3 linked regions of the Homo sapiens genome follow. The protein of the gene in region 1 purifies or fractionates together with the protein of each later gene. This does not show direct contact. Each region holds a gene or a part of one and is shown in the gene's direction. Other genes may lie near its edges. The genes, in order: SIAE, NPTX1 and CNTNAP3.

Region 1 (3,749 bases):
AGGCCAGCAGGGGAGGGGGCCTGGCTTCTAGACCCTCTTTGAAAGGACTCACCTGATTAGGTCAGGCTCACCATGATACTCTCCCTTTTGATCAATGTGAAGTCAGCTGACTGGGGACGTTACTTGTAACATCTGCAAAATCCCTTCACTTTTGCCATATACAACATAATCACAGGAGTGATATCCCATTACCTTTGCCATAGCCTATTGGTTAGAATCAAATTACGAGTTCCCCCTACCACAAAGAGGAGAGTATTGTATAAGGATGCGGCTCCCTGTGGGTCATCCGCCTAACATACCCAGATATCCTCATAGCTTCTTTGCGCATCTCCTTCTAGTCTTCATTCAACTCTGACACTCTCTCCTCCTTCCCTATTATATTTTTCTCCAGTGCACTTGTCACTTTCTCATAGGATATGTAGTTTACAGATCTATCTTGTTATTCATTCTCTCTTTCCACTAGGGTATAAGAATGGGAAGGGATTCTTGTGTTTTGTTCACTGCTCTATCTCCTAGGCCAGTATTAGTGCATGACACAGAGTAGGTGCTCAGTAAATATTTGTTAAAAGCATGAATAAATACATGAGCTGACTGATAATACATGAGCTGTGGATCCTTCACAGGCTCTTTCTGGAACAATATTATTCCCCAAATATTCTGGTGCTACTTGGATGCCTGAGATGCCACACAGTTAATTCAGATGCCGTGGCTTCCGAATGATGGATTTTACCCTTCCTCTTGTTCTCCATATCCAGTTGGTTGCCTGGTTTTGTCAGTTTTTATTATTTCTCATCATCCCGTTCTACTACTATCTCTGTAGATTAGATCTTTGTTTTTGTGTCTAGAATATTATAATAGCTGCTTAACTAATCTGTCTCTCTGCGTTAAGTCCTTTATTTTGGTTTCTTTTTTTTTTTTTTTTTTTTTTGAGATGGAGTCTTGCCCGGTTGCCCAGGCTGGAGTGCAGTGGCACAATCTTGGCTCACTGCAACCTCCGCCTCCTGGGTTCAAGTGATTCTCCTGCCTCAGCCTCCCGAGTAGCTGGGATTACAGGCATCTGCAACCACTCCCGGCTAATTTTTTGTATTGTTAGTAGAGAAGGGGTTTCATCATTTTGGCCAGGCTGGTCTTGAACTCCTGACCTCAGGTGATCCACCCACCTCGGCCTCCCAAAATGCTGGGATTATAAGCGTGAGCCACCATGCCCGGCCTTATTTTGTTTTTTGCCAGAGCCATTTGTATGATCACTAGAACAATCTTTTGAAATGGTCCTTTGATCATGTCAGTAATTTCAGTGGCTCTGTAATTTCTTAATTGAGGTGAAAGTCATATAACATGCAATTGAGTTCAGTAGCACGTTAGCACATTCACGATGTCGTGCAGCTATCACCTCTACAGAGGTTCTTTATTGTTTAATACAAAAGAATCAACTATACAAACACTTGCCTTGCTATCTTTCCAACTTTGCCTTTCCTTCACAAATCCTCCAGTCCACCTGGATTGCCCCTCTCTCAGAACGACCATTCTCCTCCCCACCTTTGCATCTTACATGCTTCTAACATGTGAAGTGTGAGCAGTACTGCCTGTAGTGACTTCTCATATTTTTGATGCCCATTTGTTTTAATGAATTCTGAGACCACGTTTTCCTATAATAATAATCTTTGCCTGTTCTAAATGTTTAGTACTTGCTGTCTGTGGCACTCATTTAACATTTAATCCATACTATTTTATATGTTTATGAAACATAAACCCATTCAATCCTTATGTTTATTTCTTATGTGTAGGTCTGTCCTCCTCAACAAAGCTGTAAAGTACTTGTACCAGTTAGCTACTGCTGTGTAACAAACTACCTCAAAACCCCCGGCCTAAAATAGCCTTTCTTATATAGGTAGCTCTTGTCTGGGGAGCTGGGGTTTGGGTGATTTGGCTAAGCTGCAGATCTTTGGGCTCTTTCAGACCTCTGTGGGTCAGCAGGGGCGCTCTTGTCCTTCTCCAGGGAGCAGCAGGCTAGCCCAGGCACGTCCTTCTTATGGCGATAGCAGCAGTGCAAATGAGCAAGTGGAGCCATGCAGAGTCACTTAGGCTAGGAAGTGACACACCATACTTTCTGCTTCTGTTGATTGGTCAAAGCAAACCACATGGCTGAGCTTAGAATCAAGGGTTTGGGAAACATACTTGTCCTGTTAACGGGAGGAACTGCAAATCCACATGGCAAGAGGGTGTGGATATAGGAGGGAGTGAAGAATTGGGGTCACTGATGCAATTTAGCACATGCTCAAGGGCAGATTCTTCTCTGCTTGCCTACAGTGCCTAGCCCTGTGTTGTATACAGATGTATCAGTTATCTATTGCTTTGTAACAAGCTACCCCAAAACTTAGGGGCTTAAACCATCAGCCATATTTTTTGCTCATGATTCATTGGGTTGGCCAGGTAGGGCTCACCTGGGATGGCTCATTTCTGCCCTACATGATACCAGCTAGGCTTGCTTATGTGGCTGCAATTTTAACTGGAGGATCTAGAAATCCATATGACTGGCCCTTATCTGTGATTGCTGGAACACTAGAGCCTCTCTTTCTATGATCTTTCAATTTCCAAGGCCCCTCTCACTCCATAATCTCTCCAGCAGGGTAACTGGATGGTGTTTACATGACCAGCTCAGGGTTTCAAGAGAATGAATTCAGAAGGCAAGGCCTCATAAGGCCAAGACTCAGGAGCTGTACAACATCAATTCTCCTGCATTCTATGGGTCAAAGCAAATCCTAGATTCAAAGGGAAGAGAAACAGACCCCGCTGCTTGATGAGAGGTGTGGCAAAGTTGCACTGCAAGAGGGCACATGGGATGAGAGGGACTGTTGCAGCTGTCTTTGGAGAGACACTGCCACAACAGTAAGAAGCTCAGTAAATACGTGTTGAATGAGCATTTAAATGCAATGAGAGAAGCAGAAGCAGAGTCTGCCAGTGAAAAAGACTCCAGTGTGGGATTCTGATACAATAAAATTAGCAATGTCTCTGCTTTCTAGTTATCTTCAGATTTGTCTAAGAAGAGCTCAGACGATGGATTTCCCCAGATCCGTTGGCATCAAACAGCAGACTTCGGCTATGTCCCCAACCCAAAGATGCCCAATACTTTCATGGCTGTAGCTATGGATCTCTGTGATAGAGACTCGCCTTTTGGCAGGTATGATTGCTTCTTGGGCTTTGCATGAACAGTGTATGTTCTTTGTAGTCTTTCACTCTGATGTTCACCGGTGAGGGGCAATTAGACTGAGGATTGGCACTTAAGAGTCACGTATGCTGGGGTGTGCTGCAGTAACAACAGCAAACACCCTCAACATCTCAGTTCTCTGATGCACCAACAATTTATTTCTTGGTCACTCTCTCTGTTAAAAGAAGGTCAACAGAGACTTTGCTCACTGTAATCATTCATAGACCCAGAGCAATAGAGGCTCCAAGTTGACCTATGCTTCCATAGTCATCTTAAAGTGTCACACTGGCAATTCAGTGCTTCCACACAAGTCATTTCTGCTCACATTGCACTGGCCAAACCAAGTCATAAGGCTACGGTTAACTTCAGTGGCAGCAGGAAATGGAATTCCAGCATTCCTCTGGCCTCACAGGAGGAATACTGAGATACCTGTGATCAGCCCCAGGGAACACCACACACTAACTGTAGGATGTGAGGGGATTCCACATAGGAAACAGAGTCCAACACACAGTGTCTGGATTATAGGAGGAACTTGATTGATTTA
Region 2 (3,749 bases), on another chromosome or scaffold:
CCCGAGGGTCTCCTCTCCTGGGGCCCCACAGTGCCCAGAGGTCCCGCTAGCCCCAGACACCGCCCCAGGCTCCCCTCCCTTTCTGACGCCGTCCACTCCCTTCCTCTGCGGAAGGGGGACACGCTCCTCTGTGCCGAGGTGCCAGGCCGCTGAGATCTGCTGCCCTGGAGGAAAAGCCAGGCAGGGTCCCTGGCCTTGGGCGGCTAGGAAGGCTCCACGGCTGCTGGGGATAGAGACGCGGGGCCAGGCTAAGGGTTCCCGCCCCGTCTAAACAGCCTGCCCTGGGCAGGGCAGGGCTCCTCTCCCGCGCCCGCGCGCTCTCGGCTGGGCACGGTCCGGCTCCAGGCCTGACGGGCGCGGCCTCCCCACTGGACGCGTGCGGGAGGGCGGCGAGGCCAAAGCGCTGGGGCCAGGAGGGCACCCGCCTAGCGGCTCCCTACGGGAGTTGGGGCAGAAGACGCCGCGACCCCGCGCGGGTAATTTCTCCCGAGGCGCGTTCCAGCCCGTGGCGCTGCCGGCGCAGACCCCGCGTGGGGACCGGCGAGGCTAACCCCTCCTGCGGCCCGGGGTCGGCAGAGCACGCAAGGGGCCGCGGGCCGCGTGGGTTTGGGCGCGCCGTGGTGGGCAAGCGGGGCCAGCGGAGCGGGAACCCGCACACCCTCCGAGCGGAGCCGAGGACAGGCCCGTGCGGGCCGCGGGGTCCCTCTGGCGCCAGGAAGCGGCGGCCGAAGGAGACAACGAGAACGCAGCCCCGGCTCAGGGAGGCTTAAAAGCTGAGATGCTGAACGCAGACGGCGGGCGCTCGGGGGCTGGGGGGCGGGTAGAGGCCGCCATTTCTCAAAAAGGTCTCCATCGAGCCGGCCTCTGCTCCCGCCCGAGGGGCGGACGCCCGATCCCGGCACCCGGGACTGCCCGTGGGTCCCTGCTGGCTGGGGACCCCCAGCCCCCGGCTGCGCGCAGGGAAAGGCTGCAGAACGCAGAGACCAGAGAAGCCGGGGGCGGCGGGGAGGGGTCGGGGGGCCACGGCTGTAGCCCGGCCCCGCAGTCTCGGAGCCTCAGTTTCCTTCTCTGTACCACGGGAGCGTGGACGGAGGGATTTCCGAGGCTTTGACCGCTCTGATAGCCCCGGGGCGGGGCGGGGCGGGGCGGCTGCGCCAGCCCTGGTCCTGAGCCCCCAGCCCGGCGCCGGAACCCGGACCGCGATCTCGGGAGCCGAGCCCCGCGGTCCAGATGAAGGCGCGAGTGCGCGGGTGCCGGGTGGGGTGTCTGAGCGAGAGCGGAGCTTCTCAGGTGGACGCCCCCAGCCACCTCCGGGACCCTTCCTGCTGGCCTTTGGGCCTGAGAAGTGGGCGCGGCTGGACAGACGGGAAACAGCCCCCCACGCACAGGTGGACACCCGGGGATACCGGGCGCGCGCGGCGCCTGGCAAGGGGAAGCTGCTGGAGACGCGGGCGGCTGCTCCCGCGGGGCCCCCTTCCGAAGCGCCGCTGCGAACGTCCAGCCCCGGCGACGCCGCCTGCCCGCGATCGGGCCGGCGCCGCGGACAGGAAAGGCTCGATCAGCTAGGTCTGCCTCCGAGAAGTCCCCAGCGCCCCGCCCGCACGGGGTGGGGACTGACAGTCCCCCGGGGACGGGGCCGGGTCCACAGAGCCCGGGAGCTGGGGGAGGGGAGGCGCCGGGGGCCCCGACCCGTGGGAAGTCCCTGTACCCAGGCTGCCCGGCGGCTTCTCAATAGCACACGGACATCTAAGAAACGCGGGGCGGCCCGGTGACCCCCGCTCTGGACTTAGTGGCGCCGCGAGGCCCCACTCCGAGCCGTTGACCACCGGGCACTCGGGTGTTGACGACCTGGGTCCTTGGGCACCCAGCCCGGCTCCAAACGACCCCGGCCCAAGGGTGTTCAGTGCAGCCAGGAGGGCCGAACCGAATTCTATCTCCCGGACGCGGTGGTTTCCCGCCCGCCTGGAGCCCCGTCGGAGGTTCGGGGACACCACGCAGGTGGTCCATCCTCGAGTCCGGGGCCGGAGCCCGACTTCCTTCCCCCTGAGCTCTCGGAGCCTTCGGGGCAGCAGCGCCGGCCCAGGCGGGGGCGGGGGAGGAGGGGGCCGCGGCAGCTCCCAGAAGGGCGGGGGGGACGCGAGCGGAGGCAGCCCCGGTGGCGCGCTCGTGAGACCCCCGCCGCGCCGCGGGCCCGGGCCGCGGACAATTAAAGCGGGATTCCTCCCCCGCTGACGTCGGCGGCTCGAGGCCCCTCCCGCGGCGGCATAAAAGGCGCGGGCTCCGCAGCGCAGGCGGCAGTGGGGGCCTGATAGCGCGGCGGTGTGGACCGCGCGGCCGAAGAGCGCGGCGCCCAGAGCGCGGGCCGCTCGCGGAGCCACAGCCCGAGCCGGGTCCCAGCCGGAGCCGAGCCCCAGCCGAGCCGAGCCGGGCCCGGAGCGCCCGGTGCCCGCAGCCATGCCGGCCGGCCGCGCCGCGCGCACCTGTGCGCTGCTCGCCCTCTGCCTCCTGGGCGCCGGGGCCCAGGATTTCGGGCCGACGCGCTTCATCTGCACCTCGGTGCCCGTGGACGCCGACATGTGCGCCGCGTCCGTGGCCGCCGGCGGCGCCGAGGAGCTCCGGAGCAGCGTGCTGCAGCTCCGCGAGACGGTGCTGCAGCAGAAGGAGACCATCCTGAGCCAGAAGGAGACCATCCGCGAGCTGACCGCCAAGCTGGGCCGCTGCGAGAGCCAGAGCACGCTGGACCCCGGAGCCGGCGAGGCCCGGGCGGGCGGCGGCCGCAAGCAGCCCGGCTCGGGCAAGAACACCATGGGCGACCTGTCCCGGACACCGGCCGCCGAGACGCTCAGCCAACTCGGGCAAACTTTGCAATCGCTCAAAACCCGCCTGGAGAACCTCGAGGTCCGCGCGCGCCCTCGGCTCCGGTTCCCCCTCCGGCTCGCTCGCCCCTCTGCCCTCCCCCACCCCGTTCCCTACCCGGCCAGGCATCCCCCGCCCTCGCCTCAGCCGCGCGGGTGCCCGGCCGGTGCCTCCCCGCGCCTGCGAGGCCCCGCGGCGGCCACTCGCCCCAGCTCCCTGCCAGGCCGCCCCCGCAGTCGCCCAGAGGGGACCGCGCCGCGGGCCTTCCAGCACGGTCCCCGCGCCTCGCCTAACGGTGTGGTTTCCCCCGCCCTTGCACCCCGCAGCAGTACAGCCGCCTCAATTCCTCCAGCCAGACCAACAGCCTCAAGGATCTGCTGCAGAGCAAGATCGATGAGCTGGAGAGGCAGGTGCTGTCCCGGGTGAACACCCTGGAGGAGGGCAAGGGGGGCCCCAGGAACGACACCGAGGAGAGGGTCAAGATCGAGACCGCCCTGACCTCCCTGCACCAGCGGATCAGCGAGCTCGAGAAAGGTACTGGGGCCAGGGGGAGCCGTGCTGCCTGCCTGCACCTGCTTGCCCGACCCTGCCTCGGTCCCGATCCCTAACAGCCCAGCTCTGCACTGTGCAAGCCTCAAGCCGCTCCGCTACCCCCAACCCCTGCACCGCTTTCTCATTCCCCGCACCCCTTCCCAGGTTCTGGGCTTCTAGTCGGTGTTTCTATCAGGGCTGGGTGCCTTGGGCTGGGGCTGTCTCTGGGAAAGGGGATTGCATAGTGCCCCCTCCCCCATCCAGACACACTCACACACTCGCTGGATTTTTCAAGTCTGATTTGTTTAATCCTCAGTAACTTTGCACAGTGGCTGTCGCTGGCTCAAACCCTCCCTGCTTAA
Region 3 (3,749 bases), on another chromosome or scaffold:
TTACTTAGCCTAAAACACTTTTAATTTTAATTGCCTCAATTTTTTCCCCTAAATGGTTATGTTTTGCAAGTTCGCCAGCCAGCCTGGGGAAAGAAGGGTAAGCCTACTATAGAGTGTGTGTGGGTTAGTTAGGAAACTCACTTAGATGTGAAATGTGTCAGGAAAGAGATCTCACAGAGTGTAGGAATAATTATTTTTACAGATGTTTCATTTTGGACCTTTTAGTAATACCATTTAAAGAGAGATTCTGCAGATGAGTAACAGACTCTTAATTTTAGTGTCAAATGGTACTCTATAAAAAATGGAGTTCAGGCCAGGCGCGGTGGCTCACACCTGTAATCCCAGCACTTTGGGAGGCTGAGGTGGGTGGATCAGTTGAGGTCGGGAGTTCGAAACCAGGCTGGACAACACGGTGAAACCCCGTCTCTACTAAAAATATGAAAAAATTTCAGGGCATGGTGGCAGGTGCCTGTGAGGAGGCAGTGAGCTGAGATCGTGCCACTGCACTCCAGCCTGGGTGACAGAGTGAGACTCTGTCTCAAAAAAAAAACCAAAAAATGTAGTTCAGTTGCCTTTATTCATTTTCACCAAACTCTATACAAACAGTACGGAGCATAAGTAGCCCATGGAAGTGATAATCAATTCCAAGACATTGGTTTGATCATGAAAAAAGAAAAATCAAATTACTTGGCGTTCTTCTTCCTCTTCCTCTCCCCTTCTCTTTTTGAACAATTCAGTCCAAGGTCATTCAGTTCAGCTTAGGCATCCATGCTGGGTAGTGGGGAGGCCCAGGACCGTGGCAGAGCATTCAGAAACCAGCAGGGTAAGGAAAGCATCCACAGTGTAGCAAGGGTGGGGACCTGGAGAGACAGGAGACAGCACTGGTGGTGACCTATAGCAAGTTGTCAGAGGTTGAGTGGAGTGAGGAAGGAGGCATTCCAGATTGACGGAGGCTAAGAAAACAAGGCAACTAAATACTACTCTGCATTAAATGCTTATGTTATAAAGGACATGATTGGGAATTGGTGCAACTTGAACAAGATTGGGGATTAAATATTGGAACTTTATCCATGATGACTGGGATGATCATATTATGGTTATATAGGAGAACATCTTTGTTGTAGGAAATGTACATTGAAGTATTCAGGGGTGATACAGCATATTAGCGTAGTTCTTCCATGTTTTCTGTAAATTGGTTTCAAAATCAAATGGTTACTTTAAAAAACCATTCAAAATTGTGTTTAAAGGAAACATGGACCAATAGAAAAACTCAGAATAAGTAAATGTAGTTAAATTGATGCATTTTACCTAAGAGATGTAGATTAAAAATAAAGAGGCTGAAAAAAAAACAGTTATGAGAAATAACAGTTCATTTATGTATGTCTCTAAATCAAATTAGCCTGGATTTCTGAATGACAAAGATGTGATTGGCACTGGGATTGTTCCCCATTCTTTTCGGGAAGTTTATTGCCTAGGACATCTGTATCAGTCTTCAAAGTACTTTTTAAAGCTTGAATATCTGAATGAACCCGTCAGACTGACTGTTATCTGGTCTTCTGTAATGGGCTTCCGCACCTTTGACGAGACTCTTAGCTGAAAGGTTGCTTGTCCCTAGGCCCGGTTGCTCCACGTTGTAAGAGCATTTGCAAACGCTTGGTTGTACATGATTGTGCACATGTCAAGTCTGCTCTGTCACTGTAGAAAAAATATTCCTTTTCACTTGACATATAAAGCATGGAATTGTTTGTTTTAAATGTCTTTTGTCAAGGATTTCATATATCTGCTTGATGTGTTGTACTGTATAAAAGACAAGTGTGAAATTCATTGCTTACTATGATAGCCTTAACAGGACTACAGTAAATCTAGTTTTCTAAAAAATGGAGTATATGCTTAGCTTGGTTAAAATTTTATAATGAAATGACTACTCTGGTAATAAAAATTAAAAAATATCATAAAGTGGGGGCTAAAAAATGATACTGCATGTGTTCCAGTTAATGAACATTTTTGTTGTAATAATACGAAGAGTGATTGAAATCTAAAAACATTTGAGATTTTAAAATAGTTTTAACCTTATAACTACAGGATTGTAATTTAAGTAGCATACCTACTTAATAAGGCAGCAATTAAAATTATTGCTAAGAATTAAATTACCAAGAAGACATGGTCTAGTATGTATTGCCTGGGCTGTGGTTTGAATTACTTTTGATTAAGTATAATCACATTTTTTGAGAGTATAAAAACAGAGGATATTACTTGCTTCTAATTCACAGATGTGTTTATGAACCATTGGCAATTAAAGCATTTGCAATTGAGGCCCTAAGAAAATTTTAGGTTAAAATAACATGTTGAGTTATGCCTTATAACTCAGTATATGCTTATACTTTATATGCTTTACGGAGTTTTGAATATATAATATATATATATAATAGTATATTTTTCCAGGAAATATATAACTTGTAGTTCCTTGACTTATTTTGTAACTAAATCCCATGGAAAAAAGTTTATTGAATGTCATTGTTTCTCAGGCAAATGTAGAGTTAGGAAAATGATATATATACATATTGGGAATCTTTTAGAAGGCTTGGACTTGGTAGCTCAAATCTTCTACAACCTTGAGCTTCAACTTTCTGGCCGGTTCAAGAGATCTCTTCACTGTCCTTTTCATGTAAAGTCAATGTTTATGGAACACTAGACCAAAATGGAAGGATTCCTTTGGAAACTGAACAAACAGTTGAATTAGTCTTTGACTTGATGGAGTGATTTGATCTAAAATATTACCTAACCGTTTTAGATATCTGTTCAATCAGAGCTGCCTCCATATACGCAAATGATAATTTGTCTTGGATTTTTAGATATCTTAGCCCTCAGACAAGCTAATAGAGTTTAAATTGAACCTGGTGTTTTAGGGACAGTTGAATTGTTGGGATGCCCAGGAAAACAGTCACATTTTTCTATAAGTATGTGTTTATTTGGCTGGAATGTGGGTGAGGAAGAAGTTATATGTGAATTAAAAGAAACATTGTCTCAATGTCACATGTTAAATTAAATTAAATTACAGGCAGAACTAAGCGAGTTTACGATTGCTGCCGCTGGGAGCAGAGACTATTTTCAGCTTACATTTATAACAGAAGGAGGGATTTAAAATATAGTATTATGCCTACCCTGATACAGCTAACCTCCTCCACCCGCCCCTCCACACACATACAGCTACATGCTTACCCTCGAACTATGAAAGAAGGGTGTCTCTCAGGCATCCTATATTTAACCCAGCTTTGGACACGTCCCTGGAGTCTAGTCTTTTTGAACACAGCAGTGAAGATAAGGAATGGGGAGGGGGCTTTGATTTCAAGACCACTAGATATAGTAGATTCCTAATTTAATTTCAAAGACAAATCAATTATTAACACAAATACAAAGAGAACAGTATTTTAAGCAAAGCTTCTGTTGTGGCAGATAACCTTTTAAGGTGTCTCCCAGTTGGGTTTCTATTTTAGATGACTTTTTGAAGAATATATCTCTGTAATAGAAATATGTTTGATGATTCTCATCTTTAAGAACTTCACATTTGCTATAATTAAGATATTTATGAATTTATTGTAAGAAGATTGGTAGAAAAAGTAATGCAACATCAAATGGGAAAATAAATATATAATATTATATAGCTGTTCAAATATAGGGTTTATGATTCTTGAGCTAATTTGAACTGCTGTACAACACCAGGAGAAAAGTCCACAGCTGTGTTAAGAAAG

The links.
Region 2: the proteins of SIAE (region 1) and NPTX1 purify together in Homo sapiens (affinity purification with mass spectrometry; 3 studies listed by BioGRID and IntAct, with this or other methods). This does not show direct contact.
Region 3: the proteins of SIAE (region 1) and CNTNAP3 purify together in Homo sapiens (affinity purification with mass spectrometry; 2 studies listed by BioGRID and IntAct, with this or other methods). This does not show direct contact.

Annotation. Positions count from the first base shown.
Region 1 is NC_000011.10:124,639,139-124,642,887, reverse strand, and holds part of SIAE (sialate O-acetylesterase isoform 1 precursor), read left to right. Parts: intron 1-3,020; coding exon 3,021-3,178; intron 3,179-3,749. UniProt on the Homo sapiens protein: Catalyzes the removal of O-acetyl ester groups from position 9 of the free diacetylated sialate N-acetyl-9-O-acetylneuraminate (Neu5,9Ac2) in the cytosol and of the diacetylated sialate residues of sialylglycoconjugates in the lysosomes.
Region 2 is NC_000017.11:80,475,152-80,478,900, reverse strand, and holds the start of NPTX1 (neuronal pentraxin-1 precursor), read left to right. Parts: upstream 1-2,293; 5' UTR 2,294-2,454; coding exon 2,455-2,898; intron 2,899-3,182; coding exon 3,183-3,390; intron 3,391-3,749. UniProt on the Homo sapiens protein: May be involved in mediating uptake of synaptic material during synapse remodeling or in mediating the synaptic clustering of AMPA glutamate receptors at a subset of excitatory synapses.
Region 3 is NC_000009.12:39,281,433-39,285,181, reverse strand, and holds part of CNTNAP3 (contactin-associated protein-like 3 isoform 1 precursor), read left to right. Parts: intron 1-3,749.